Linked DNA regions of Homo sapiens: region 2 is linked to region 1. Evidence: fine-mapped expression QTL. A gene starts in region 1. The other region holds a variant in brackets. All regions are shown on one strand. Distances are from middle to middle. Region 1 holds the start of MESP2 (mesoderm posterior bHLH transcription factor 2). Region 2 holds the start of ANPEP (alanyl aminopeptidase, membrane).

The links.
Region 2: its variant is fine-mapped to the expression of MESP2 in whole blood (TOPMed, PIP above 0.99). The same link has a PIP of 0.9 or more in blood mononuclear cells and monocytes.

Annotation. Positions count from the first base shown.
Region 1 is chr15:89,767,731-89,783,076 of GRCh38, forward strand. It overlaps MESP2 (mesoderm posterior bHLH transcription factor 2), which reads left to right and starts at 8,602. Exons shown (of 2, transcript NM_001039958.2): 1 at 8,602-9,551; 2 at 10,335-11,024. The coding sequence starts at 8,628. The coding sequence ends at 10,604. LOC124903550 (a long non-coding RNA gene) reads right to left here and starts at 8,879. Exons shown (of 2, transcript XR_007064751.1): 1 at 8,560-8,879; 2 at 4,364-7,321. RefSeq lists enhancers at 1-623, 14,208-14,267, 15,332-15,346 and a silencer at 8,866-9,025.
Region 2 is chr15:89,806,328-89,821,673 of GRCh38, forward strand. ANPEP (alanyl aminopeptidase, membrane) reads right to left here and starts at 8,525. Exons shown (of 21, transcript NM_001150.3): 1 at 8,445-8,525; 2 at 1-479. The coding sequence starts at 256. RefSeq lists promoters at 209-2,001, 257-1,265, 257-409, 8,461-9,615, 8,461-8,949 and 2 more, cis regulatory regions at 8,564-8,569, 8,821-8,949, 8,857-8,860, 8,859-8,888, 8,906-8,908 and 5 more and enhancers at 2,996-3,140, 8,094-8,593. The variant A/G (reference allele first, on the strand shown) is at 8,560.

The DNA of each region.
Region 1 (15,346 bases):
CACTACCTACCCAGGGAGAAAGAGCAGGTGCAGAGCTCCTGTGCGCAGGGCTGTGGGCAGCCAGGTGGCTGCAGGGGCCTGTGCTAAGCCACCAAAGGCGGGCTGGACCAAGGGCATTGCCCTCTCTCACCCTGTAACAGGGCCAGGGCCGAATGAGCACATCTTGGGGGGCCAACCTGAGGCCTCTGCCCTCCCCACCCCACTGCTGGTTGGGGAGGAAGTGCTGGGAGGCCCATAAAGGGGTGGTGGGATGGAGGTCTCAAGATTCCTCACTGTCTAGAAGGAATACAGACGGGCATTACCTGCCTCAGGGCCAAGCTGGCCCATGCCACACAGGCAAGACCTGCACAAGATGATGGCAGCTTTGTGCTTCCAACCCTGAGAGCAGGCCTAGCCGAGCCACTGAGCTTCAGGCACCGACAAGAGTAGGTGTGCAGGTGGCCTGAGCTTGGGCACTTGGGAGGCCTCCCGCTGTGCTCCCCCTACTCAGGACACCCTGAGGACTCCCCTGTGTTCCTGCCCTGGGATTACCAGGAGTCCTGAAGCAGCAGCTCCTGTTCTCTCCCTAGTTGTTGGCCTGAGCTCTGAAACAACATCAGTGGTCATCAGGTCCAACCCCCTGTTTTACAGAGCTTGGCAGAGGCCGCAGCAGCCATCTGCTCCAGCTCCTGCACGTGCCTAACGTGTCGTCATCTGACCTTTTCTTGATTAGCTCCAGGAACAGGCCACTCCCTCCCCTACAAGACAGAGCCTCTGACTTAGAAAGTTCTTCAGACTCTCTCTGGAGCGTTCCCCTGGGTCCGTGCCTCTGCAGACAACCGTCACATCCCCTCCACTTTTTTCTTTTTGTACTCAATGCTCCCAGGTCCTCCAGCTATTTCACTGGTGACCTGGCTTCAAGCCCTCTCACCAGCCTCCCTAAGCTGGGATTTGTCCCCATCCCTCATGAACAGTGGCCTCCAGTTCTCACCACTTACTTCAGGTAGGGCCCATCCTGTCTGGAGAATAAGGAACCATCACCATCACTCCTCAGTTGAAGACCCCCCCTCAGTTGAAGACCCCCCCACCCCCGTCCCCACCCCTGCTTCTTGTGATTTTTTTTTTTTTTTTTTTTTGAGACAGTCTTGCTCAGCTGCCCAGGCTGGAGAGCAGTGGCGCGATCTCAGCTCACTGCAACCTCTGCCTCCTGGGTCCAAGGGATTATCCTGCCTCAGCCTCCCGAGTAGCTGGGACTACAGGTGCGCATCATCGTGCCTGGCTAGCTTTTTTGTATTTTTAATAGAGATGGGGTTTCGCCATGTTGGCCAGGCTGGTCTCAAACTCCTGGCCTCAAGTGATCCACCTGCCTCGGCCTCCCAAAGTGCTGGGATCACAGGCGTGAGCCACTGCGCCTGGCCTGCTTCTTGTGAATTTGCATGCAGCTTGGATCACATTTACTTTTATGCCCCTCATACTTTGAAGGCAATGACCACCATGCCCTCCCACATGTGCTGATTTTACAGGATGCCTCCTGACGTGAACTTGGAGAAGGGTACAGGGGACCTGCTCGTTCTATTTGATCAGGTCTGATGGGTTGTTCCAGCCTGTCAGGATTTATTTAGATACTGGCTGTTTCCCAAGTCACTTTTGGGTTTGGGTCTTACCCCACATTAGATCAGTTCATATCTTCATTCAAGATCATAATACTGCCCAGGAAAAGGCTGGGAACAGTGCCTGTGGCCCCTCACTAGAGACCTTCCTCCCAGTGAACATCCGCTCATTCATTTGTGGGAGCCCTGAATCTGTTGTGAATTCACTTAACTGAACCGTCATCCAGCTCACATGGCCCCATTGGTGATAAGGAAACTCTGGGAACTTCCCTATTATGTGGGTAGGAATTGTGTTTCGTTGCTCATAGTACCTCCTAAAATGACACTGACCTAAACAAGATGGTGATTTTTCTTTTTCTTTTCTTTCTTTTTTTTTTTTTTTTTTTTTTTAGCAGGGTGTATCACCATGCACAACACAAGATTACTAAAAGAAAAAGGCAAATAAAGGCTGTGTGGGCAACTAGCAGTGTCTGCCACACTTGTGAAACCCAAATACATTCTTCTGATCACGTTTCCCTGATCTAGCCACCATTCCTATCACAGAAAGGAAGATGTGAACCTGGTGCTACTAGCACACTGAAGCCCAGAATGTAATCACCTTACCCAATGGCACACAGCCACAGGCCCTCTTTTTAACAGGGGAACCAAATGAAGGGTGGAAACACTGAAAAGGGGCTGCAGGGTAGGATCCAAACCTGGCTTGTTTGCTCGGCACCTAGGGCAGGTTCCAGCACAGAGTAAATACGTGGCCCCACACCCATCCAGAAGTGGACCCCTTAAGGGCCCCAGGGCTGTAGGCAAGTTGGACAGGCATCCCTGCCAGGGCCCAACAGAAGAGAAAGGCTGGATATGGAGAGGTGGGGAGGGCAGGATGCCCTGGTTTGGTGTGGGAGCAGTTCCCAGAAAGCAAGGAATCACTTCCTTCTGGGACCAAGGCTGAAGATATCATTCCCCTTACTCACAGTCCAACCTATTCCTTTAATCACTTCTTTCTGCTGTTCCTGAACTTGCTGTAAGCATAACATCAGCCCTGTTCTAAACGTTATCACATGCATTATCTTATTTTACTTCAGTTATCCTGGAGATCAGAATACCCACTTATAGACGGGAAAACTGAGATTGAGTAAGTTGCCCAAGTTCTCCCAGCTGGTAAGAAACCAGGCCTGTCTCACTCTGCAGCCCAGACACCTGACCACTAAGCTGCACTGCCTCCCTGTGCTAAGTGGAGGCCCAGTTGGGGGATCCACTTGGGGTTCCCTCCTGGTGAGTGAGGCTAGCAGATAGAGTGCCCTTGTGCTTCCAGAGCCTAGCTGAGGAGTACAGGGAAGAGCCAGGGGCCACAACAAACCAGGCCCAGGGCCCCACCTTCCAGAACTTACACTGTAAAACCCACAGTCAGCCTAGGGTCTAGGCTCCAGGCTAGCTCAAACCAAGGTAGAAGGAGACCAGGCAATCTCCGAGAGGAAAGGATGTATGTACCATGTGCAGGGCTCTGTGCCTGTGGTGGAATCCCATTATATACCAAATCCCTCCACAAGAAATCCCTCAGGCTGGCTCTAAGGAGGTTGGGGGGAAATAATTCTGGATATTCAGAAGCTTCCTGGAGATCACAAGACCATCCACCACTGTATTCCTAGCTGTTTATGCACAAAGCAGCACTGCTGGGCAAAAACTAAAAATACAATAAAGGTGCATCAGTAAGTGGCTGTGCATGCCATGGACTACCATATAGCAGTTAAAAGGCATGAGTCATGCCTGTAATCCCAGCACTTTGGGAGGCCAAGGCAGGCAGATTGCATGAGGTCAGGAGTTCGAGTCCAGCCTGGCCAACATGGTGAAACCCTGTCTCTACTAAAAATACAAAAATTAGCCGGGCACGGTGGCACATGCCTGTAGTCCCAGCTACTTGGAAGGCTGAGGCACAAGAATCGCTTGAACCTGGGAGGCGGAGGTTATAGTGAGCTGAGATCACACCACTGTACTCCAGCCTGGACAAAACAGAGAGAGTGTCTCAAAAAATAAAAAAATAAACAAAAATAAAGGTGTGAGTCAGAAACATCAATAGAAGCCAGGCGTGGTGGCTCACACCTGTAAACCTAGCACTTTGGGAGGCCGAGGCAGGTGGATCACCTGAGGTCAGGAGTTCAAAACCAGCCTGGCCAACATGGTGAAACCCTGTCTCTACTAAAAATACAAAAAATTAGCCAGGTGTGGTGGCAGGCATCTGTAATCCCACGTATTTGGGAAGCTGAGGCAGGAGAAATCGCTTGAACCTAGGAGGCGGAGGTTGCAGTGCGCTGAGATCATGCCATTGCACTCCAGCCTGGGCAACAAGAGCGAAACTTCATCTCAAAAAAAATAAATAAATAATAAAGAAACACCAATAGAAACAGCACCTGCTCTATCTGAAATGCAGCACCTAGATCAAGACATATCTATGAAGCCTGATGAATTTTGTTTATAACTGTTGAATGGATACATGCAAGTTCCCTGATAGACAGTATGTCAAGAGCTTTATAGTGTTGTGTGGCCTCGGACCAATAAATGATGTACCTACACTACATGTGCCATTATTTCAACCCAAAAAGTCTAGGGGTGAATGTTTTACAAGTTGTCCCTTATTTCCCCTTAGGAAATAGTTGTTTTTTGTTGTTGTTTTTTTTAAATTTTGGTTTAAACCCTTTTAAGCCATGAAATGTTCCATAACTAACTGCTTCTCTCCAAAGAAAGCCTGTTTGAAATCTATCCCACCTTCTTTTCATGTTATGGACCAATTAAAATTTTCTCTTCTTTATTCATAGCAGCTAGAATAAACTAAACGATAGTTGTTTGCCCAGAGTTATTCAACACCAAGTGTTACTTCATCATAACGTTAGAGCAGTGACTTGGGCATATTTTCTCCGATATATTTCAAAATAAATTCTGAGGAGAAAAAGTGACATAATTTCATTATTGAAGGTGTATCCGTACCTTCTGCCATTTTACCTTTTTTCCAAAGTTAAAATTATTTACATGGGCTGCGTACAGTGACTCATACCTGTAATCCCAGCACTTTGGGAGGCCGAGGCGAATGGATTGCTTGAGCCCAGCAGTATGAGACCTGCCTAGGCAACATGGTGAAACTCTGTCTCTACAAAAAGTACAAATTTTAGCCGGAGTGATGGTGCACATCTGTAGTCCCAGCTACTCCGGAGGCTGAGGTGGGAAGATTACCTGAGCCCGGGAGGTGGTGGCTGCAGTGAGCGGTGACTGCCCCACTGCACTCCAGCCTGGGTGACAGAGTGAAACCCTGTCTAAAGAAAAAAATTATTTAAAGAGATAAACATTTAAAACATTTAGATCAACTATAACCAAGGTTTTGGTTAAATCTGTATTCGCAGGCAGTACTTTTTTTTTTTTTTTTTTTTTGAGACAGGGTGTTGCTCTGTGGCCAGACTGGAGCACAGTGGTACGATCATAGCTCACTGCAACCTCAAACTCCTGGGTTCAGGGGATCCTCCTGCCTCAGCCTCCCAAGTAGCTGGGACTACAGGGCCCACCCCACCATGCCTGGCTAATTTTTTTTTTTCTTAGATGCGGGGTCTGACTATGTTGCCCAGGCTGGTCTTGAACTCCTGGGCTCAAGCCAACCTCTCACCTCAGCCTTCCAAAGTGCTGGGATTATCCCCACTAAAAATTTGATCCATTATTTTTTTAAAGGGTGAGTCAGCAAAATATGTCCTGACATGGAATGCTCTGAAACATGCTGTTGAATGAAAAAAAAAAAAAAGAAAAAGAAAAAGAAAAGAAGAAAAACAAATTACAAGCTGACATTTACACATAACAATGTACATAATGTAACTGGAGGGTTACTGTGTGTTTGCTAAGGATACACGTTTATGTTAACCCACTGGCCAGGTCTGGAACTACACACACAGCCTAATAACAGCTGTTACCTTTTGGGGGTTTATGGGGTTGGTTAAAGAGACTCCAACTTTATCTGTAATGTTTCCATTTCTCACAGTGAAAGGTAGTAGTTACATAATTTGTGTAATTAAAAGTTAATTTTTGAAAATAGCCACGCCCTCCCTCAAAAAAAAAGAAAGAAACAAAAAAAAAGATTAGCCAGTCATAGTGGTATGCGCCTGTAGTCCCAGCTACTTGAGAGGCTGAGGCAGGAGGATCACTTGAACACAGTTTTAGGGTACAGTGAGCCAAGATTGCATCACTGCACTCCAGCCTGGGCAACAGAGTGAGACCCTGTCTCTAAAATTAAAATAAATGAAGCCTGGGCACAGTGGCTCACGCCTGTAATAACAGCATTTTGGGAGGCTGAGGCAGGCGATCACTTGAGGCCAGGAGTTCGAGACCAGCCTAGCCAACATGGCGAAACCCCATCTCTACTAAAAATACAAAAATTAGCCAGGCATGGTGGCGTGCACCTGTGGTCCCAGCTACTCAGGAGGCTGAAGCAGGAGGATTCCTTGAGCCTGGGAGGCGGAGGTTGCAGTGAGCTGTCACTGCACTCCAACCTGGGCGACAGACCCTGTCTCAAAAATAAAACAAATAATAAAATAAAATAAAATAAAATAAAATCAGCCACAAAAATATTACAAGGCAGCTGGGCCTGGTGGCTCATGCCTGTAATCCCAGCACTTTGGGAGGCTGAGGAGGGCAAATCACTTGAGCCCAGGAGTTCAAGACCAGCCTGGGTAAAACCCAACTCCACAAAAAATGATAATAATGATTAAATAATTACGAAGCCATTTGCTACTTCAGGCTGCTGCAGGTTAATCTCTTCTTGAACACCATTGTCATGTTGATCTTTAGTTAGTTATTAGCTAATGATTTTTAAAATTGTATCACCCTTCCGCTCAAAAGTCCCTATGGCTCCCAAAACCAACTCCTTAACCTGGCCCCAGCCCAGGTGTGCTCTGGCCTTCCACATCACCACCCCAGTGCCCTGCTCCTAAGGCATCTTGGAAGGTCCCAAGGCCAGGTCTTTGCTTATGCAGTTCCCATCCGGAAAGCACGGCACCTGCCTCTCTCCCTACTCAAATCCTACGCATGGTTCAAGGCCCAGCTATGACTTCTTCACCTCTGTGGCCAGAACCCTAATGTCCCTGGTCTTCTTTTGACTCTTAGCCTCAGGACTCAGCCCTTTCCCCAAGACCACACAGGACATTGACAATCTCCTTTAAACTGTAATTGTTGCTGAGAATATCATTTACTTTATAAATTTTACTATCTCAACTATCCCTTACACAATCCCATGTAGATACTATCATTATTCCTGTTTTACTGAGCAGAAGCTCAAGCTCAAACAGGTTAAGGGCTCTGCCTAAGGGCATACAGCTACTGTCATACAATGGCCTGTTCACTTTTCTTTCCCACAAGACTGAAATCTCATTAGAGCAGAGACCATGACTAGCTCATTCACCCTGTGTGCTCGACATTTACTGGTTGCTAAATATGAATTCGGCCAGGCGCAGTGGCTGACGCCTATAATCCCAGCACTTTGGGAGGCCAAGGCGGGTGGATCACTGGAGGTCAGGAGTTTAAGACCAGCCTGGCTAACATGGCAAAAACCAGTCTCTACTAAAAATACAACAATTAGCCAGACGTGATGGTGCATACCTGTAGTCCCACCTACTTGAGAGGCTGAGGCAGAAGAATCACTTGAACCCAGGAGGCAGAGGTTGCGGTGAGCTGAGATGGTGCCACTGCACTCCAGCCTGGACGATAGACCAAGTCTGTTTCAAAAACAAAAAAAAGAGAATAAATAAATAAATATGAATTAAATGAATAAAGTCCATTAGTGCCTTGAAATCTAAGTACTTTCCTTTTATTTTATTTATTTATTTATTTATTTACTTATTTATTTATTTTTGAGACGGAGTCTCGCACTCGCCCAGGCTGGAGTGCAGTGGCACGATCTCAGCTCACTGCAACCTCCGCCTCCCGGGTTCAAGCGATTCTCCTGCCTCAGCCTCCCGAGTAGCTGGGATTACAGGTGCCTGCCACCACACTCGGCTGGTTTTTGTATTTTTAGTAGAGACAGGGTTTCAGCATGTTGGCCAGGCTGGTCTCGAACTTATGACCTCAGGTGATCCATCCACCTCGGCCTCCCAAAGTGCTGGGATTACAGGCATCAGCCACCATGCCTGGCCAGTACCTTCTTTATAAAACGATCATGGCAAACCTTCAGCTCACTTGCCAGGGCCTAAGTGCTTTACAGGGATCGCTGTACTTAGTCCAGGAACCATCCTAGGCATAGGTATTTTGTATCACTATTGGTACCGATGAGGGAATCTGAGGCTCAGAGGAGCTAAATAACTTAACCAAGGTCACAGCCAATAAAGAGGCCGGCTTGGGGACCCATTTTCGCCGGTTTTCATCACCTAGGGTACCCAACTCCTCTTCCCCAACCTAATCTATTCCATTTCTCAAGAGTAGATACAGACCATGGGCAGTGAGATGCCTTTCTTGGTGTGTCACTCAACAAATCAGAAACTGTGGATTTTGGGGACCCCAGAAGGGCCCACCTGCACTTCTTCCTCAGCCACCATGGGCAGGGCCCTCCGGGCTTGTCTTGATGCCTTATTTAATACAACAGTAGGCACAGCGTCCTGGGCACAGACCTCCGGGAGGTTAGTGATGAGAGAGGCACCCACTCCTCACGGGGTCCCTGAGGCACCCACAGACCATGGCACTACCCGCCTCTGTTGGGCTCCCGGGCACTCACCGTGAGCAGTGGACGGGGCAGGGGCGTGGGTGGGAGCGTGGTGAGAAGCTTAGCAGCTCCATCCAGATGCGAATTGTCCCTCCCATACTTCCCGGGCTGCAGGGGCCTCCATTTAGAGCCCCCAAGGAGTCAGAATCCACACCTCCGCAAATGGGCCCGCTTTCCCAGGGGCCCCCTGCCCAGACTTTCCCTGGGCTCTGTGGGTTTTGACACCTCTCTGCAACCTGGCGGGGGGCCACCTCGCACCTTTGGTCAACATAAAAGCTCAGGCCTGGAGGTGGCCAACCCAGCCTCCCAGAGCCTGCAGCCCGGCCATGGCCCAGTCGCCTCCTCCGCAGAGCCTCCTCGGCCACGACCACTGGATCTTCGCCCAGGGCTGGGGCTGGGCCGGCCACTGGGACTCCACGTCCCCGGCCTCCTCCTCCGATTCGTCGGGTTCGTGCCCCTGCGACGGCGCCCGCGGACTCCCGCAGCCACAGCCTCCGAGCTGCAGCTCCCGAGCCGCAGAGGCAGCCGCGACGACGCCCAGACGAGCGCGCACCGGACCAGCGGGCGGACAGCGGCAGAGCGCCAGCGAGCGGGAGAAACTGCGCATGCGCACGCTGGCCCGCGCCCTGCACGAGTTGCGCCGCTTTCTGCCTCCCTCCTTGGCGCCGGCCGGCCAGAGCCTGACCAAGATCGAGACGCTGCGCCTGGCCATCCGCTACATCGGCCACCTATCGGCCGTGCTGGGTCTCAGCGAGGAGAGTCTGCAGTGCCGGCGCAGGCAGCGCGGGGACGCGGGGTCCCCTTGGGGCTGCCCGCTGTGCCCCGACCGTGGCCCCGCAGAGGCGCAGACGCAGGCGGAGGGGCAGGGGCAAGGGCAGGGGCAGGGGCAGGGGCAAGGGCAGGGGCAAGGACAGGGGCAAGGACAGGGGCAAGGGCAGGGGCGCAGGCCGGGCCTGGTCTCCGCCGTCCTCGCCGAGGCGTCCTGGGGATCCCCGTCCGCCTGCCCCGGAGCCCAAGCCGCACCCGAGCGCCTGGGGAGGGGGGTCCACGACACGGATCCCTGGGCAACACCCCCTTACTGCCCCAAGATACAGTCGCCCCCGTATTCGTCCCAAGGGACAACCTCCGACGCGTCTCTTTGGACGCCACCCCAAGGCTGTCCCTGGACGCAGTCGTCCCCAGAGCCCCGGAACCCACCAGTGCCCTGGACGGCGGCCCCAGCAACTTTGGAGCTGGCCGCAGTGTACCAGGTATGTGTGGAGGCCCTTGCTGTGTTCCCCAGCCTCCAGTCTGCAGAGAATCTCGTACTTTTTCGATCCCAGCTTATCTACTCCAGGATTATCTAACGGAGGGGAGAATGGAAGGAACCCCCGGCTCCGTGGGAGAAGAGATGGGACCCTGGGAAGTTAAGGCCATCTCCACAGTCACCACAAGCAGTCTTCACAGCCATGGGAAAGAGGGGGAGCCCGCCGACTTTCTCAGAGGGTGGAAAGTAGCAGGGTGGGCGTGCTGGCTTCAAGTGCTATTAAGACTGCAGTGGGGGAAGGAAGTCCCAGGGTAAGGGCAGCATTTCCTGAGTAGATGGGCCTAGAGCTGGTGATTTCAAGTTTTCTTCAAGATTCGTTCATTCATGAGGCTCATGAATGACTCATCGTCCATAAAAAATCATATTAACCAAAATTTGTTGAACACTTTCTATGTGCCCATCATCATTCTTGGCACCTTACATGTATTATTCAGCCCCAGTAATGACCCTAGGAAGTAGGTATTATCAGCATCTCTATTTTACAGGTGAGAAAACTGAGACTAAAAGAAGCTACCTGAGTTCTCATTACTAGTGAGTAGCAGAACTGGGATTTAAGCCTTAGCAGAGTGTCTCCCGAGCCAGTCCTCTTAACCACTTGGCTTTGCTGCATTCATGGCACCAGGGCTGTCCGGATGCTGCCAGCCATACCATGGCAACCAGCCAGATTCAAGATCTCTGGATATCAGGGAGTAGCCCACTAACCAGGCTGCTCTCATCTCTCTTGCAGGGTCTCTCTGTGTCTCCAGAGCCCTGTCTGTCGCTGGGAGCTCCATCTCTCCTGCCCCACCCATCATGCCAGAGACTGCAGCCTCAGACCCCCGGGAGGTGCTGGAGCCACAGTGCAGAGGTGGTGCCCAACTCAGAGGACCAGGGACCGGGCGCCGCCTTCCAGCTCAGTGAAGCAAGCCCTCCCCAGAGCTCAGGCCTGCGGTTCAGTGGCTGCCCTGAACTTTGGCAAGAAGATCTGGAGGGGGCCCGCCTGGGCATCTTCTACTAAATGGCCTCGGCTTCCCTCTTTCCATCCAGGAATCAGTCCTGTAGCTTGGGTGCCTCCTTATTTGTTAATTAGTGGCTTTTCATGTTCTCCTTTAGCCAAGGCTCCCTTTTTCCAAGTGATGTCTTTCAGGGAAGCAGTGTTTGAAATAGATAGCGGGTACCTTCCCTGGATGGAGTCAGGGCGGGGGCACTGTCCTCCACTGCTAGACACCCCCAGAATGCCTGGCGCTCTGCAGAGCACAGTCTGAGCTGCTCTAAGAAGGGGTCTCCTTTACCCTAAAGGCAGCTGGGCAGGGACAGGTGGGAGAATGGGTGTAGGAGGCAGGCCCCAGGCTCTGCTTCTTGGTGACAGTTGGCCAGAGCCCTGTATGCTTTGATTTTTTTGTACTTAAAAAGAAAAAACACACACACACAACAAAAATTTGGTTTGGCCTTGTTTTTTGTTCATCAACCTGGGTTTTTCTTGCCTCTGGAAAAGGAAACATGTTTTCCTTCTGTGGGGAACAAGTTCTGCTGCTCTTTCCTTCTCTAATCCAGGCCTGCCAAGGTTTGGGTGGGCCCTCATTTGTCAGTTTGACCATATTTATTGCACTGGAGCTCCAGGGCCAAAAGCTCCACCTGGCTTGCTGTGCAAGGTAGCACAGGTGGGCTAAGCTTGGGCCTGCCCACTTGCCTCAGCCACATCACCACTGCCCTTTTGTGTTCTTCGGGTGCATTCCTGGTGACTGCTGGGGTGGGTGCATGCAGCTGTGGACAGACAGACAGGAGCCCCAAATGGGGAGACCACAGTCCCAGAGACCTGTCATTTAGGGCTCTTTCACAATGACATGAAATTTTCTTCAAAGAATACTGGGAGTGGTTCCTACGTGCTAGGCCCAGTGTATTAGTTTGCGAGGGCTGCCATACTAGAATGCCACGGGCTGAGTGCAGTGGCTTACGCCTGTAATCCCAGCACTTTGAGAGGCTGAGGTGGGAGGATCCCTTGAGGCCAGGAATTCGAGACCAGCCTGGGCAACATAGCAAGACCTTGTCCCTACAAAAAACTTAAAAAAACAACAACCACAGACTGGGTGGCTTAAACAACAGAAATTTATTTTCTCACAATTCTGGAGGCTAGAAGTCCAAGATCAAGGTGTAGGCAGGTTCAGTTTCTTCTGGGGCCTCTCTCTGTGGCTTGCAGATGACTGCCTGTTCGTTGAGCCCCTACATGGTCACACATCTGTCTCTATTGTCTGTGTCCTGATTTCTTATAAGGGCACTAGTCATGTTGGATCAGGACCTACCCTAAGGGACCCATTTAACTGTATTTACTCTTTTAGGGATCTTTCTTCTAATACAGTCACAGTTACATTCCGAAGTATTGGATGTTAGGGCTTAAACATAAGAAACTTCTTTTTTTTTTTTTTTTTTGAGACAGAGTCTTGCTCTGTCGTCCAGGCTGGAGTGCAATGGTGCAATCTCGGCTCACTGCAACCTCTGCCTCCCGGGTTCAAGCGATTCTCCTGCCTCAGCCTCCTGAGTAGCTGGGATTACAGATGCCTGCCACCATGCCCGGCTAATTTTTGTATTTTCAGTAGAGACAGGGTTTCACCATGTTGGCCAGGCTGGTCTCGAACTCCTGACCTCAAGTGATCCACCTGCCTCGGCCTCCCAAAGTGCTGGGATTACAGGTGTGAGCCACCACACCCAGCCAAACATAGGAAATTTTTTTTTTCTTTTTTTTTGAGAGGGAGTCTCACTCTGTCGCCCAGGCTGGAGTGCAGTGGCATGATCTCAGCTCACTGCAACCTCTGCCTCCCAGGCTCAAGTGATTCTCCTGCCTCAGTTTCCCTAGTAGCTGGCCTAGGTGCCTGCCACCATGGCTGGCTACTTTTTGTACTTTTAGTAGAGACAGGGTTTCACCATGTTGGCCAGGCTGGTCTTGAACCCCTAACCTCCAATGGTCCACCCGCCAAGGCGTCCCAAAGTGCTGGGATTACAGGCGTGAGCCACCACGCCCAGCCAGACATAGGAATTTTATGGGAACACAGTTCAGCCGCCTCAGCCTCCCAAAGTGCTGCTATTACAGGCATGAGCCACTGCGCTCAGCCATACAGGAATTTTATGGGGACATAATTCAGCCCATAACACCATGTGTTAGGTGCCAGAGAGAAAATATTCCCCAACTAATGTGAATTACAGGGAAATAAATGATCAGAGCCCAGGTCCTAAACACAAGGATGGGGGTTTGTGTGAGGTGCTTAGGGACCAGGATGCGGTAACCTGGTGGGAGGCGAGGTTGGCAGTACCATCTCATTCTTGAGTTACCTGATTCCTTAGTCCTGCTGCCTTGATTGCGGTGTCTTAAGAGTAAGAGGCACTGCCAGGATCTTGGGAAAAGGATGCCAAGATCTATTAGCAAAGGCTCCCGTGGGCATGGGAGCCAGCAGTGGTGGTAACTTCCTTCTGTATCTGCTGACTCAGGGAGGAGAGAGTGCAGAAGAGGTGACCTTGGAGCTGGGTGTTGAAGGATATGCAGGAGTTTATCAAGAGGAGTGAGGGAAGAGAGGTCCAGGCAGGAGCAACAGCATGAGCCAAGTCGAAACAGAAGCGTCTAGTGTCTAGAGATGACAGAGAAAAGTGGCAAACAGAGCCGGAAAGGGGCTTGGAGGCAAGTTTGTGGGGAGTTCCACGTGGTGGGTGATGAGGTTTTGGCCTCCGTTTCCCGAATGATGGGCAGCACTGAGGGTTGGGAGTTGGGGGTGAGCTGGTAAGAAGTCTGCTCTCAGTCCCTTCGGCCGCTTCATAGAAATGGAACCAGGCAGGAGGCCACTGCAACAGTCCAGCTTGAGAGAAAGGGAGAGGCAGCACAGAGCATGAGCTGCCTGATTTCCTGGGCTTGAGCTCTTGGCGTGTGGGGCTTTCCCCTCTCATCCTGCAAGGTTGCCCGTTGCCTCTGACACGCCCTGTGGCATCAGGCAAGTCACTCTTTCTGAGCTTCAGTTTTCACAGTTCCTAAAGGAGGAACTATCTTGGGTGGTGCTGAGGTACCTTCTTCCTCTAACCTTCCAGAAGTGCTCTGGTTCTGCCCTTAGGGCCCTGCTGTCCCGAGGGGCTGTCAGCCACAGCTGGAAGGATGAGAAAAATCCAGGCAAGGTTAGAGTAGACACACAGCATTGGGGCCCAGGTTGCGCATTCTACTCGGCTCTTACTTGCTGTGTAACCAAGTGAGACTGACAGATAAGCTTTGGAACCTCCCTGAGCCTCAGTTTCTTCAACTGTGAAGTGGAGACAATAATAGACCTACCTCTCAGGGTTTTAATACTTGGCACATAGTAAGTGCTCAATAAAATGAGTACTGAGGCCAGGCATGGTGGCTCACGCCTGTAATCCCAGCACTTTGGGATGCCAAGGTGGGGTGATCACTTGAGGTCAGGAATTTGAGACCAGCCCGGCCAGCATGGTGAAACCCCGTCTCTACTAAAAATACAAAAAATTAGCCTGGCGTGGTAGTGAGCGCCTGTAATCCCAGCTACTCAAGAGGCTGAGGCAGGAAAATCGCTTGAGCCCAGGAGGTGGAGGTTGCGGTGAGCGAGATCGTGCCACTGCAAGCCTAGGCGATAGAGTGAGACTCTGTCTCCAAAAAAAAAAAAAAACAAAACAAAAAAAGGAAAAAGAAAATGAAAGATTGCGTTAGCTATGCTGACTCCACAGTCTCGAAAGGCTGAGTCAGAGGAGCCACCAAGGCTGCTGCCTACAGAGCCTCAGCACCTTCCATTCCTGCTGGACTTGAGTGCTGAGGGCAGGCAAGAGCGCTGGGCAGGGAATCAGCCGCCAGAGTTCTAGTTGGTTCCTGCTCTTTGACCTTGACCAAGGCTCTGCAGGCATTCCTCTGGCTCTGTGTATCCTCACTGCATTCCAGGATCAGCCATGGAGGTCCTGATGAGTGCCAGCATTGTACACTGCCAGGTGGCATCGTCAGAGGTGTTTGAACCAGAGCGATTCCATCTTGAATAGGGGCTAGGCAAAATGAGGCTGAGACCTGCTGGGCTGCATTCCCAGGAGGTTAGGCATTCTTAGTCACAGGATGAGACAGGAGATCGGCATAAGATACAGGTCACAAAGACCTTGCTGATAAAACAGCATGCAGTAAAGAAACCAGCCAAAACCCGCCAAAACCAAGATGGTGACAAAAGTGACCTTTGGTCATCCTCACTGCTCATTATGCGCTGATTATAATACCTTAGCTGCTAACAGACACTCCCACCAGCGTATGACCGTTCACAAATGCCACAGCAATATGCAGAAGTTACCCTGTATGGTCTAAAAAAGGGAGAAACCCTCAGTTCTGGGAAATCCCCACTTCTTTCCCAAAAAACTCATGAATAATCCACCCCTTGTTTAGCATATAATCAAGAAATAAGGCTGGGCGCGGTGGCTCACGCCTATGATCCCAGCACTTTGAGAGGCTGAGGTGGGCGGATCTCCTGGGGTCGAGAAACCCCATCTCTAATAAAAATACAAAATTAGCCGGGCATGGTGGTGCATGCCTGTAATCCCAGCTACTTGGGAAGCTGAGGCAGGAGAATCGCTTGAACCCAGGAGGCGGAGGTTGTGGTGAGCCAAGATCGCACCATTGCACTCCAGCCTGGGCAACAAGAATGAAACTCCGTCTCAAAAAAAAAAGAAAAAAAAAATCAAGAAATAGCTCTTAAGTTTACTCAGTTGAGCAGCCCATGCTGCTGCCCTGCCTGTGTAGTAGCC
Region 2 (15,346 bases), 39 kb after region 1:
GGTAGGAATCGGGTTTCAGCGTGTTGGGGAGGCGGTAACGATTCCACGCTTTACTTTGGTCCAAGGTGGTGGCCGAGGCGGGGTTGGTGGTGGCTGAGGCGGACGGGGTGGTGGAGGCCACGGGGGAGCTGTTGGCGTTCTTGTTCTTCTCCTGGGAGTACACCACTGACAGTGCGATGATTGTGCACACGGCTGCCACGCCCAGGAGGATCCCCAGGATGCCCAGGGACTTGGAAATATAGAAGCCCTTGGCCATGGTGATGGTGGGGAGGCGGCTCAGGGAGCCTCAGGCCAGGCAGAGAACGGAGCAGCCCCAGGCCGGGCTTATATCCCCAAAGGGGAGGAGCCCCACAACAGGCAGACTGGGCAAAAATTAACCAGGGCTCCAACAGGCGAAGGTCACTGGACTGGGCAGGGGCACGCTCCGCCTGGGGAGAGGAGATCCAGGAACGGTGTGTGGAGCTGGGCTCGGGGGGTGCCTGCTGGAAGCAAACAGTGTCTGGTTACAGGCTGCAGGCGGCCTGGGATCAGGCCCGAGGGCTGAAGGGCAGGCTTCCGGCTGTAGGCCCAGTGGGCAAAGCAAGCGGCCAGGTGGCATTGCATTGATCTGCTTGAGAGCTGAGAGGGTGGGAACAGCATCAGAACTGAGGTTAGAGTCAGGGAAGGACTTCCCAGGGGCAAGAGGTGGGAGGTGCACAGAGAAGGGGTTCCCGGCTCCTATTAAGAACACACTGGGGTCACCCCTTTGGTTGCATCTCTGGAAGGATGCCAGGGGCTCCTCAGTGACAAGGTCCCAGCCTCCCTTGCATTCTTCAAGAGCAGGGAGTTCCTCCAGGTTCCCCTCCCTGCCGCTTCTTGCCAAATACTTTTTCCTCCATTATCAGCTCACGGAATAAAATGAAATGAGTTGTTTTGCTTTTTTTGCTGAAGGCTTCACCTCTTTCCAGCTGTGACCTTGAGCAGGTAACTTTACCCTTCTGAACCTCTCTCCTCATAAATAAATAACAGTATTTGCCTCTCAGGTTTGTTGAACAGATTTAGTGAGAAAACATATTAAACACCAAATAGTAGAATGATTAAAAATCATTCCCGGCTGGGCGTGGTGGCTCACGCCTGTAATCCTAGCACTTTGGAAGGCCGAGGTGGGTGGATCACGAGGTTAGGAGTTCAAGACCAGCCTGGCCAACATGGCGAAACCCCGTCTCTACTAAAAATACAAAAAAAATTAGTTGGGCGTGGTGGCGGGCGTCTGTAATCCCAGCTACTTGGGAGGCTGAGGCAGAGAATTGCTTGAATCCGGGAGGCAGAGATTGCAGTGAGCTGAGATCGCACCACTGCACTCCAGCCTGGGTGACAGAGTGAGACTCAAAAGAAAAAAGAAAAAAATCGTTCCCTTCTTTCTTACCCAAAGCTCAACAATTGCCTCTTTCTATCCTTGGTAGAAATGAAGATATTACTTACCATACAAAATAAAATACACACCTTACAGGAAAATTATGTTCATTGTCACTTTCCCCATCCACCAGCCCAGTTTCTCAGACCTCGACACCGCCTGACCTCACTCCACATCCAATTCACCCACATTCCCCCATCGCAAGATGCACTTGGTCAAAACCATTCTCATCATTTATGTGGACACAGCAGCGCCCCTATGGACTCCCTGCCTCCATTCGGGCCTGCTTGAACCTGCTCAACACAAATTGGATCATTTTATGCCACTGCTAAAAAAAACCTTCCTTTTGCTTGTAGAGTCCAGACCAGACCTTCTAAAGGCACCCACAAGCCCGGGTACAGTCAGCCTGCCCATTTCCTGGCCTCTTCCCCCCTGTTGCAGTACCCCAGCCACTCTGGCCTTCATCAAGCCCCAGGGCCTTGGCACAACCTGTTCCCTCTGCCTGGATCTTCTCTTCCCTATTGCCTTGGTTAATTCCTTTCCATCCTACAAGTCTTCCGCAGCGAAGCCGCCCTGACCTCCCTGACCAAGTCAAGCTCCTATGAGCTCCATTAGCTCCACAGACCTGTTCTGCAAAGCCCCAGAACTCAGCGTGGTTTTCCCTTTGATCTGTGTGGTGATAACTTGAGTCCTGGACTGCAGGCCCCATGACAGCAGGGCCTCACCAGCACTTAGCACAGTGCCTGGCACACAGTAGGTCCTCATTACTGAGATGTTGAGTGGATGCGCACATGCACGAAGGATTGAGTAAATGAATGAATGAGTCAGTCCAGGAGAAACTCCTTACCAAAGTCTTTCTGGCCTCTGTCTCCCAGCTTGTCCCCACCCCACACCTGCCCCCAGAAGAAGTGCCTGCCTCTTCTGAGCCCTTCTCCAAGCATGGCAGGCAGGCCGGACTCGTGCCAGGCCCCAGCATGTCAGGGCCCCACATGCCTTCCTGCTCCCTCAGCTCTGCTCCCTGAGGGCCTCACTCGTCTGCCACCCCTGCCACCCCTGCCACCCCTGAGCTTGCAGGAAGGCTTCTTAAATAAATGCAATGTGTGAACTGAAGGGACACGTGGATTAGTTCAATCAGGCATAAGCAAAACACAAATACCTGCCGCCTCTCGTCTGGTGTATGGAGGCCGAGTCTGAGCCCAGGGTCTTTAGGGGAGTCCTGGGTGCCCACCTTTGAGACTGAGGGTGTTCTGAGCCTTTGGCATTTCCCCAAGGGGCCTTGGTCTGGGACCAGGATGGACCTCCCACTGCAGTGACTAGCAGACACCCCATTAGGCTTGGGTGATGACCCCAAGGGGCAATCGTGCGAAATCAGGTGTCAGGAAGGGCTCCAGCTTGGGCGTGGTGAGAGAAGGAGCAGTGGCTCCCAGCACATGCTGCCAGGCTCCTCCCATCAGGGTGGATGGAATTCGCCAAGGGAGCCCATCTTTACAGCACCCCCCAGGCTGGCACTGGGGCACCATGCCTGCCCCTGAAAAGCCTTTTGATATGTCCCTGACGGAGCCTGCAGCCCCCTCCCACCTTTGCAGCAGAAAGACCCACAAGTCGGCCTGGACTAATCCCTTTTCTAAACAAAGAAAGAGGCCCTGCCTGGCCCACCATACTCTCTTCCTGTTTGCTTTGGATTCAGACCATAGGCCCAGCTGGCTGGAATCTTTACTCTTCTGGACAAGGCCTCTGGTCTTCCAAGTTGGTGCAGCAGGTAGCCCAAAGTTGGCTCTATAATGAGAGGTCCCTGCTCTAGGCACCAGGCCAACCCAGGCTGGGGGCACAGAGACAGCCATGCTCTGCAGCCCCCACCTTCAGGAACACACAAAAGGGCTTCCCTCGTCCAGTCCCCTGCCACAGCCCAGGCCTGGCCACCTCCACACCCCATCGGGCAGTGGCGGCTATGCTACCCTCCCCTGTCACCCAACCCCACCAGCACACGTCAGCAGAGGGCTCTGCCTAAGAGTGTGGGTGGGACTCTCCCATTCAAACCTGGTGCCCAACCTGCAGAGTGAAACCTTAACTCTGGCTTGGGCCTTAATACCTTCTGTGAACTTGACCCTCTGGCCTGTCCTCTTTCTACTGCCCACTGTGGCTCCAGCTGCCAGCGTCTCCCCAGATCATCGGGGCTTTTTCATACCTCTGTGACTTTGCTCATTCTGTTCCCACTGCCAGGAATGCCTTTCCTCTCCCTCTTGTCAAACTCCTACTCATCCTTCAAAACCCAACTCAATGTCACTGCCTTATCATGCACACCAGCCCCCACTCCCCTCTGCGCTTCCCCAGTCTCCAGTTCCCACCTCTATCACAGCACTTAGGAAAATGCCACTGAGGCTGAGCGCGGTGGCTCATGCCTGTAATCCCAGCACTTTAGGAGGCTGAGGTGGGCAGATCACGAGGTCAGGAGTTGGAGACCAGCCTGGCCAACATGGTGAAACCTCGTCTCTAATAAAAATACAAAAAATTAGCTGGGCATGGTAGCAGGTGCCCGTAATCCCAGCTACTCAGGAGGCTGAGGCAGGAGAATCGCTTGAACTCGGGAGGCAGAGGTTGCAGTGAGCCGAGATTGTGCCACTGTACTCCAGCCTGGGGGACGGTGTAAGACTCTGTCTCAAAAAATAAATAAATAAATAAATAAATAAATAAAAATACAAAATTAGCTGGACGTGGTGGCGCACGCCTGTAGTCCCAGCTACTTGGGGGGCTGAGGCGGAAGAATCGCTCGAACCCAAGAGGTGGAGGTTGCAGTGGGCGGAGATCGTGCCACTACACTCCAGTCTGGACGACAACAGAACGAGACTCTGTTTCAAAAAAGAAAAAAAAAAAAGAAAAAGAAAAATGCTACCAGTGTGTTCAAAAGCCTGCTGCTGCACCCAAGCACCTCAAAGGAAGGCCTGGTGGCATCGTATGCCCCTCCATGCCCAGCACAAGGCAGGAGCCCAATACATGTTGGCCAAATGAATGACAACACCCACAGTCCTTGCCGTGACCTACAGGGCCTGTGTGATCCAGCCCCCAGTGATTCTCTGGCCTCATCTCAAACGCTCTCCCCTGTCACTTCTGTGCTCCACCCCAGTGGCCTCTTTCAGTTCAAATCCAACCTGCTTTTCCCCGCTTCATTCTCCCTTCCTCCCTACACACAAGCTGATCCTTGGGCCTGGAAAGCTTCCTGCCTTTGCTTCATCCACTCCCCACTTGCCCTGGAGACACAAGTCAGTGGTGCTGCCCCCAGGCAGCCCTCCAAGTGCCTCCATGAGGGTAGCACCAGGTGTGCCGTATCCTCTACACCTGGCGTGCAGTGGGAGGGCAACACGTGCTTGTGGAATGGGGCATCAGTGCAAGAATGAGAGACAGCAGTTAAGGATGGAACTTCAGAGCCTTGATCCTCGGGACAGGTTCCACCCTCTCTACCCGACATTCCTTCCTGGGCTTCTGGGCTGTGCACAAACCACCTTCGTGATCCACCTTTGTGATTATTTACTTCGTATTTTTCTTTAAATCAATTCACTTTCTTAGCCTCCTTCTGAGCGATAAAATCATGGTTGGATGTGTTAATTTATATTAACAATTCATGACTATTGGTTTAAAAATTGTTCCTGGGCCGGGCGTGTTGGCTCATGCTTGTAATCCCTGCACTTCGGGAGGCTGAGGCGGACGGATCACGAGGTCAGCAGATCGAGACCATCCTGGCTAACACGGTGAAACCTCATCTCTACTAAAAATACAAAAAATTAGCCGGGCGTGGTGGTGGGCGCCTGTAATCCCAACTACTCGGGAGGCTGAGGCAGGAGAATGGCATGAACCCGGGAGGCGGAGGTTGCAGTGGGCCGAAATCGTGCCACTGCACTCCAGCCTGGGCGACAGAGTGAGACTCCATCTCAAGTAAAAAAAAAAAAAAAAAGAAAAAAAGAAAAAATTGTTCCTCTAGGTAGCTCCTAAAAGGATCCTGTCCAGTTGCACCCGCTTTGGGAACTGCTGCTCCACCCTGTATGATGTTGGGGTTGCTGGCCCTGCGGGTTGTCTTTGGTGCAGGCTCTTTCTGCCAGTGAGCAAAATGCATGTGTTCCTTTCGCTGTGAATTTCTTGACGGGGTAGAAGCCGAGCTCTCAACCCACTTCAACTAAAGCAGCCTTTCTATGGGTTTATGTATTTCTTCCCTGCCTATGTTTTAGTCCAGAAAACGTAAGTTCTTCTAAACTAAAACCAAAGCCAAAACCAAAAAACATGAAGGTTGACAACGATCATGCCAGGGCATAACTAAGTCACAGTCACAGTGTGGAAGACACCCACACTTGTGGGTGGGGAGAGGCTCCTTGGTCTCAGATGTGAAGTGCAAGAGGCTTTCTACTCTAATATGAAGACTCCAGGAGCCTGGGAGGGGCTGTGGCCGGGAGAGCTGAGCACCCGTGGCCGGGTGAGCTGCTGTGTTATCCATGCTCCATCCCCGACCACTGGGTCCTTGGGTAGGCCCCACCCACTCCCACTCAGTGTCCCTGACTGTGAACTATGAGACTGGGAGCTCAGGGACAACCTGGGGCTCATTGTCTGCTCTGAGGGAGCAGTGAGCGAGAAGGGTAGGGACGAGGCTGGGCCTGGGCCAGGGCACACTCTGTCCCCGCAGGCCCCTGGCTTTCTCCCAGGCTTCTGAGGCCTCCGCCCATAGCTGCATCACCCCAGGGTGCTTCCTCTGGGAGCCTTGGACATTGCCCCTCCTGCAAGAACCTCAGAAGGCCCCAATGGGAAGTTGCCTCTCATCAGCCTCTTCAGCCCAATGCAGGGCACACAGGAGGAAGGAGCAGAGGCATTTGTGGGTGGGGGAAGTACACATAGGGTTTGTGTGGGGCCACAGATCCTGCCTGGCAACTCCTGTCTGCCAAATGGGGGGTGATTATCCTGGTGAGACACATGGTAGGTGAAACTGAGCACCTACTATGTGCCCTACCAGGATAATCACCCCCATTTGGCAAATGAGGACACTGAGGCACAGAAAGGTTAAGTGATTTGCCCAAGGCCACACAGCTAGTTAGCAGCAGGTTCCACAGCTTAACTACATATGCCTCCTAAAAATGTCCTCCCATACAGCCCCTCACATCTACTGTGGCCGTGCCAAGGGGAGTTGAAGACCACAGGAGAAGACACGCACCCATTTGGCCAGACCAGGGCTGGGAGCTGGGGGTAGTTCTCAGAAGTAGAACTTGTTAGCCAGGGAGTGCTGGGGGCTGCTTCCAGACACAGGCCTGTGGAGGACCCACATCTTGCCTCCAAGGTGTGACTGGGACCACTGTAGGGCCAGGAGTGACAGGCACCCGGGGTGAAGCCCGGGCTAGGGATAGATGGCTGCCAGCCTATGTGAATAAGGACACCCCAGGGCCTCGGTGTGCGGCTGACACACTGTCCATGCCATGCCTCCAGGGCTGTCCAGGAGCCCCAGCATAGGGTTCCAGATCTCCCACCAGAGCCAGCCCAGGAACTGGACCCAGTTCCAACACCTTGGCTCCTTCCGACATGGGGACCCCCATCTATGTCCTCAGAATGCCTAGCATACAATTCTTACAGCGATGGGGCTGGAGGCCTTAGCTTAAAGGCTGTAGGGGTGTAAGGAGCGCCAGCGTGTAACGAAGGTCTCATTCCCCAGAAGGCTCTGGGGGAAGCACAGGGCAGGCGGCTGGGCTGCCTCAAGACACTGGGCCGGTTTCCCCACCTGTGAAGCGGGAGCAGCGCTGTGGGTGGCCTCCTTGCACTCATAGTGTGGCCTTCGAGGCTAGGGCTCCACAGGAAGGTGGCTGAGAGTGGATGAGGGCCTCATGGGCCCAGCACACCCTCCCACAGGGAGAGGGGAGTCCACCCTCTTCCCTGCCCAGCTCCCCCATACCCACTGGGGCTAGCCAGCCTTCCTGTGGGACAGAGGCTGTCCCCACTTCCTCCTGGTCACCCCTACCCCACACGCCCACCTCCCCTCCACAAAACACATACCCTGAGGGGCCCTCTGGTCCAAGCCTCCCCTTTCACAGGTGAATTAACTGAGGCCCAGTAAGGCCAGGGCGTTTAGAGACTCAGGGATGAAGCCACATCAGACCTCAGGTCTGGCTGAGACCAGGGCTCTGACCACCCCCGAACACGGCCTGGTGGGTTGCAGTCCAGGGGCTGAGGTGGGGGAGGAGTGGGGATCCAGTCACAAAACCCCAGGACATAGCCCACCTGGGCCGTCCCTGCCCACCGCACTGCTGGGGGGGGGGGGTGCGTTCTGGAGTCATTTGGGGAAAGGATCCCATTGGCCCTGTTTAGGGGACCTTTTCCCAGACCAAGAGTGGATTGCAATGGGGCCCTGGATCTGTCTCAGTTGCTCACCAGGGAGGGCGTGGAATAGGCTCCACAACCCCCAAACCTCGGTCCCCATCCATGCCCCGGCATCTTGGCCGGGTTGTAGGAGCGAGGGAGAACGCGACTGTAACGCGGGCGTTGAGCACCTAGAGTTCCCCTTCCTCTTCACTGAGAGCTGCGGCGGAGGCTTTAGACCGAGGAGCGAGATCTAAGGTTAAAGAAAGGGCCTCTGAGCCCAGTGTTGGCCAGAGACCCCACAGGCGGGCCGGGTTCGCCCTTTGCCTTCGGCCGCGCCCCACCCACCAGGGACAGAGTGGCCGCGGCCGAGCCGGGTCCACCCGCCGCAGCTTAGCTCCGCTCCGCCGCCCTCCCCGTCCGTCCTCCCCAGGCTCCCGTCGCCCTCGCCCACCCTGGGGCCCCCTCCCCAGATGGGAGCCCCTCCGACCCCTGCGAGGCCCGCTGGGGACCCACTTGACCGCGAGATCGTAGTGGGAGCTCGGCCAAAAGAATTCTTCGCTTTCCCTGGCCCTCAGTTTACCCATCTGGGAAGAGGGGCGTCGCGGCCGCAGAAGTCCAGCTCCGCACGCGCCAAGCGCTGGGTCTGCAGCTCCCTCGGTTCCCGCGCACCCAACTGCCCCACGACCCCTACCCGCGCCCGCAGCCCCCGCCCTCCCGCCCCACTTGCCTGGGCCGCCGGGCGCTGGAACCTGGACCCTGGACCCTGGCGGGTTCCGAGCTGCGCCGCCGCCGTCCCTGCCCCTCCAGCACTGGACTCCTCCTTTCCCGTCTTTTTAAAGGGA[A/G]GTAACCGGACCCGACCACTACTCCACCCGATTCACCCCTAGCGGGCCGCCCGCCCGCAGCTCCGCCCGGGCTCCTCCCCCGTCCGCCCGCGGCTTCCCGGGAGCCCCCCAGGGCTCCTCCGCTCCTCCGACGGCCCGGCCTTCCCCCCGGGGCCTGGGATGCACCAGGGCTCCTGCTGCCCCCGACGGGGTCCCTGTCGCCGCAGCCCGCGGGACCCGCCGGCCACATCTGGACGGCATCTGCCGCGGGGGAGGGGCTCAGAGCCTCGCCCTGAGTGTCCCGCAGGGAGCCTTGTGCATCCGGGGCAGGAAGCCAGCGCATCCCGTGCAGACGGGTGGTGCAGATAACGGACCCGCCACAGCACGCAATTCAACTTTCTTGGTACCTGGGACTCGTAGTTCAGAAGGCGCAGTAGCACGACCTTGCGAAAAAGCACCGGAGTCGGGAACACGCGCTTCTCATTTTTTTCTTTTTCCTTTATTTGTTTTTGAGACAGAGTCTCGCTCTGTCGCTCACGCTGGAGTGCAGTGGCACTTTCTCCGCTCACTGCAACTTCCTCCTCCTGGGTTCAAGCGATTCTCCTGCCTCAGCCTCCCGAGTAGCTGGGACTACAGGTGCACGCCACCACGCCTGGTTAATTTTTGGAGTTTTAGTAGAGACAGGGTTTCACCATGTAAGGCTCGTCTCGAACTCCTGACCTCAAGTGATCCGCCCGCCTTGGCCTCCCAAAGTGCTGAGATTACAGGAGTGAGCCACCACACCTGGCCTGCGCCTCTCATCTTGATCCTGCTTGCAGAGGTTGTGCAGCCACCGGAGCCCCGCCAGGGTGGGGCTCCCTGTCTCTGAGCAGCTTTAATGGGCGGTACCAGATAATATTTGTATTGGTTCCCTGTGGCTGCCGTAACACAAACATAAAACAACACTAATTTACTATCTTACAAGTTTTGTAAAATCAGAAGTCCAAAATGGGTCTCGCTGGACTAAAAGCAAGGGGGTTGAGGGATACAGCTTTCTTGAGGCTGGAAGGGAACCTGTTTCTTTGGCTTTTCTGGCTTCTAGAAGCTGCCCACATTCCTTGGCTGGTGGCCCCATCCATCTTCAAAGCCAGCAGTGGCCCACCAGTCTCTCACAATCTGTCACTCTGACACCAACTGTTCTGCCTCTTGCTTCCACTGGTGAGCATCTTTGTGATTACATCGGGCCTACCCAGATAATCCAGGGTAATCTTTCTATTTTAAATCAATGGATTGGCAACTTGAATTCCACCTGCAACTGTAATTTCCCTTCGTGGGGTAGCATAACATATTCACAGATTCTGGGCATTAGAACCAGGGCATCTTTTGAGGAGGAGGATATGATTATGTCTACCACAATATTCAAGCTGACTTCCAGACTTTCAGATTTATAATCAAATTTAAGCTCTTCCTTATCCATGATTGGAATCCTTGGGACAGTTAAAGCCTTGCACTGCATGGTCCAAATTGATGGCTTTGTGACTGGCTGTGTTTTATTATTTTACTTGCACTTGCTCTTCTTTTGGAAACTTCATGGAGGACCAGGGTACCTCTAGGTAGCAGCCTTGCTTCTCCTTCCTAATTTGCTCTGTACTCTTAAAAACCAGGTCACAAACATATCGGAATATAGAATTGTGTGTAAAGTAAGAGTAAGTAGGCTGTGAGTGAGACCTCAGAGGCTATTTTGTTTTTTTTCTCTCTCCAGTCTCATGCATGTCTGACTCTCTCCACTATCATATCTGGCATAATCTCCTCCATGTCTGACAAGCCAAGGAAAACACTACATCAGGCCAGGAGAGAATCTTCCCCCCGGAGCTCTGCCTCTCCCACCCAGGCTCCGCGGAGATTTTAAGAGGAGTAAAGATCCTGCTGTGGCAGAAGTGCAACCCAGCTTTCTGGAGGGCAGTTTGGGGTTAGGAATGAAGATCACTTTCAGAAATTTAGCCTGAAGAGGCTGGGCGTGGTGGCTCATGCCTGTAAGGCAGGTGGATCACTTGAGGTCGGGAATTCAAGGCCAGCCTGGGCAACCTGGTGAAACTGTGTCTGTACTAAAACACAAAAATCAGCCAGGTGTGGTGGCGCATGCCTGTGGTCCCACCTACTTGGGAGGCTGAGGCACGAGAATCGCTTGAACCTGGGAGGCAGAGGCTTCAGTGAGCTGAGATCACATGACTGCACTCCAGCCTCGACTACAGAGCAAGACTGTCTCAAAAAAATAAATAAATTTAGCCTAAGGAAATAGAATATTTATATGCAAGGCTTTTCACTGCAGTATTACTTATAATACTGGAAAATCAGAAATAGCCTAAGTGGGCTGGGCGTGGTGGCTCATGCTTGTAATCCCAGCACTTTGGGAGGCCAAGGCAGGCAGATTACGAGGTCAGGAGTTCGAGACCAGCCTGGCCAATGCAGTGAAACCCTGTCTCTACTAAAAATACAAAAATTGGGTGGGCATGGTGGTGGGTGCCTGTAATCCCAGCTACTGGGGAGGTTGAGGCAGGAGAATCGCTTGAACCCGGGAGGTGGAGGTTGCAGTGAGCCGAGATTGCGCCACTACACTCCAGCCTGGGTAACAGAGAGAGACTCTGTCCACCCCCTGTGAAAAAAAAGATGAAGAGACAGTGCTTGCTCCTGCAGAAAGAAAATTCATGGGCTCATAAACATGTAAAAAGATGTTCAATAACTCACTTATTAAGAAAATGAAAATTATAACTACAAAAGATACTATTCTTCACTTACCAGATCAGCAAAGATAAAAAGCAGTTTGGTAGGTCAGGCACAGTGGCTCATGTCTGTAATTCCAGCACTTTGGGAGGCTGAGGCAGGAGAATCACTTAAAACCAGGTGTTCGAGACCAGCCTGGGCCACGTGGCAAAACCCTGTCTCTACCAAAAAAAAAAAATTAGCCAGGCGTGGTGGCACGTGCCTGTAGTCCCAGCTACTTGGAAGAATGAGGTGGGAGGATTGCTTGAGCCTGAAAAGTCAAGGCTGCAGTGAGCCATGATCGTGTCACTGCACTCCAGCCAGAGCGATAGAGTGAGTCCCTGTCTCAAAAAAAAAAAAAAAAGTTTGGTAACACACTATTCGCAAGGGTGGGAGGAAAACAGGCAACCCCCTGCATTGCTGGTTGGTGTGTAGACTGACTCGACCTCAAAAGAGAATATTTGGGCAGTATTTATCAAACATATAAACACATGTCCTGTTTGACTTGGCACTTCCAGAAATTTATCCTACAGATAATGCTCACACGTAAGTGAAAGGAATACACAAGGCTTTCCACTGCATCGCTGCAACATTGAGCCAAAACCACAATGACTTTTGCACCAATCTAATAGCTGGAGACAACCTAAATGTCCACCAATAGAGATGGGATAAATGAATGATTATTGTATGCCCTGCAATGGAATGCATATGGCTATCAAAAATAACTAGGATTCTCCTTACAGAACGCTCCCCAGGACAGGTTGTTTAGTAATAAAACCTAGACGCAGAGCCGTGTTCAAGTCGTTTATCAATTGTACTTAAATGGAAAAAGCACAGAGACACACAATTTGCTTTTATATGTGCACGCGCTGATAACACGAGTTGTTTCCCAGGAAGGAAACTGGAGCTGGAGAACAGGGTGGGAAACGCATTTTTCAGCATATCCTTTTGTTCTCTTGAATCTTGAACCATGTGAATACCGTGTCTAATCAAAATATAAATAAAATTAAAAGTGAAGACGAAAGACCAGAAGATTAACAGGCTTTATAATATAATTTTTTTTTTGAGATGGAATTTTGCTCTTGTTGCCCAGGCTGGAGTGCAATGGCGCAATCTTGGCTCACTGCAACCTCCGCCTCCTGGGTTCAAGCGATTCTCCTCCCTCAGCCTTCCGAGTAGCTGGAATTACAGGCGTGTGCTACCACACCCACCTAATTTTGTATTTTTAGTAGAGACAGGGTTTCTCCATGTTGGTCAGGCTGGTCTCAAACTCCCAACCTCAGGTGATCCACTTGCCTTGGCCTCCCAAAATGTTGGGATTACAGGCGTGAGCCACTGCGCCTGGCTATAATATAAAAATTTGAATGCCAGGTGAGGTGGCTCACATCTGTAATCCCAGCACTTTGGGAGGCCGAGGCAGGGGCATCGATTGAGGCCAAGGCAACATAGCAAGACCCCATCTCTATTTTAAAAACTTTTTTTAACTTGGCTGGGCGCAGTGGCTCATGCCTACAATCCCAGCACTTTGGGAGGCTGAGTCAGGTGGATCACCTGAGGTCAGGAGTCCCGGCCAACACGGTGAAAATCTGTCTCTACTAAAAATACAAAAATTAGCCGGGCATGGTGGCAGGCACCGGTTATCCCAGCCACTCAGGAGGCTGAGGCAGGAGAATCACTTGATCCTAGGAGACAGAGATTACAGTGAGCTGAGATCGCACCATTGCACTCTAGCCTGGGCGACAAGAGCAGAACTCTTTCTCAAAAAAAAAATAAATAAAAATTATAAACTTATATTTGTGGATGAAATGATTTGATGTCTCAGGTTTGCTTTGACCTAATCCAGAAGGGGTGGAGAAGTCAGGAATGCTCAATACAGCATGATTTAAAATAGGGGAAAATCAGAAACAATTAGATGTTCAGTAATGGAGGATTGGTTAAATAAATTATGGGCTTCTATATGAAAAAAGTACTATGCTACCATTCTAAAAACAATAAATCATAGCTGGACGCGGTGGCTCACGTCTGTAATCCCAGCACTTTGGGAGGCCGAGGCAGGTGGATCACCTCAGGTCGGGAGTTCGAGACCAGCCTGACCAACATGGAGAAACCCCATCTCTACTAAAAATACAAAAATACCCGGGCATGGTGGCGCATGCCTGTAATCCCAGCTACTCAGGTGGCTGAGGCAGGAGAATCACTAGAACCCAGGAGGCAGAGGCTGCGGTGAGCCGAGATCGCGCCACTGCACTACAGCCTGGGCAACAAGAGCGAAACTCTGTCTCAAAATAATAATAATAATAATAATAATAATAAATCATATTTTAGAAGTATTGAAAGAGTACTTTCTGTTTTGTTTTGCTAATAATCGTGGAGTGGGAAGACCTTTTTAGGTATATGAAATCCATACTCCACAAATGAAAAGACCGCTACAGTTGACTACATAAAGGTAAAAATCTCTGCATTGCACAACCACCACAAGCAAAGTCAAAAAGAACCCTCCATAACAGGGGAAAATTAGCTATATGTTGCTAACTGTTGACTCTCAGAGATGGGTATATTGAGGGTTCATTATTACTGTTATTTTTTAGTGTGTTTTCAAATTTCCATAACAAAAGGAAAACTTAAATATATACAAACTTCTGTATGGCAAAAGCCAAATATTACACTGGACAATAATATTTGCAACACATATAAACAACAACAGATTAATATCAATAATGTCCTAAAAAGGTCCTACAAGGTGTTTGTAAAAGACATAAAAACAGGCCAGGCGCAGTGGCTCACGCCTGTAATCCCAGCACTTTGGGAGGCTGAGGCGGGAGGATCACGAGGTCAGGTGATCAACACCATCCTGGCTAACATGGTGAAACCCCGTCTCTACTAAAAAAAAAATAATAATAATACAAAAAATTAGCCGGGCGTGGTGGTGGTAGCCTGTTACTCCCAGCTACTTCGGAGGCTGAGACAGGAGAATGGCGTGAACCCAGGAGGCGGCGCTTACAGTGAGCCGAGATCATGCCACTGCATTCCAGCCTGGGCAACAGAGTGAGACTCCGTCTCAAAATAAATAAATAAACAAACAAACAAACATTAGGGCAGAATAGGACTTGGGAAAATAAAATAAAATAAAAACAACACAACTGAAAACCGGGCAAAGGATTAGATCTGAAACTTCACAGAGGAGGAAATTTTAAAAGCCAACTAACAGGTGAAAAGATGTTTAACCTTAGTCATACTCAGGAAACACAATTTCAAAACAATGAGATGTCAGTTTTCACTTATGATGTTGGCCAAGGTCTAGACCAACGGATAACATCTAGAGTCGGCCAGGGTGTGGGGAACTGGGATCCCCCCACAGTCCTGGGGCACATGGGAATCGCTATGAATAAAATGGCAAGCCCTATTCACAATTTAACCACAGCTACCCTTTCATCCAGTGATCCTGTTTTGGGGAATTTATCCTAAACCCAGGGAGTAACGAAACTACTGCTTAAACCATTCATGCAGGAGGAGGCTTATTAGAGCATTCCTTGTTCGAGAAGAAAAATAAGCCAAAATGTCTGTAGAGCACCCTTTAAACAAGTGAATAAAGGTCCACAGGAAACAGTGTACACAGTCACAGAGCGTGTGTGCTAACTCTGTATGTATCACCTTGGAATGATGTCTGTTCGTACATTTTTAAGTTCAAAAGCAAGTTCCAAGCAATGCATTTCATCTCACCCTCTATTACAACAGCCCCAGGGATTGTCCCCATTTTATAGAGGAAGCTGATGGCTCAGGCGTGAGTAACCACCCCAGGCCAGTGCCCAGCTTGTGTCAGACCTTCCGAGGAAGCCACATCTGTCTGACCCAGCAAAGCTGCAGGGTCCTCTCTCTGGGTGCGTCATTCGGGTGTATTGTCATGAGTGCTGGGATGAAATGGAAATGAACTTGCCAAATTATTAACCCACTCTGCCTCAGTGAGGTTGACTTGAGCCAGGGGTGGGCTGGGGGAGGGAGACAGGGGAGAGACTATCCATTTTTTCCTTATATGCTTGTTTATTCTTTGAATTGTTAGAACAAACGTGAG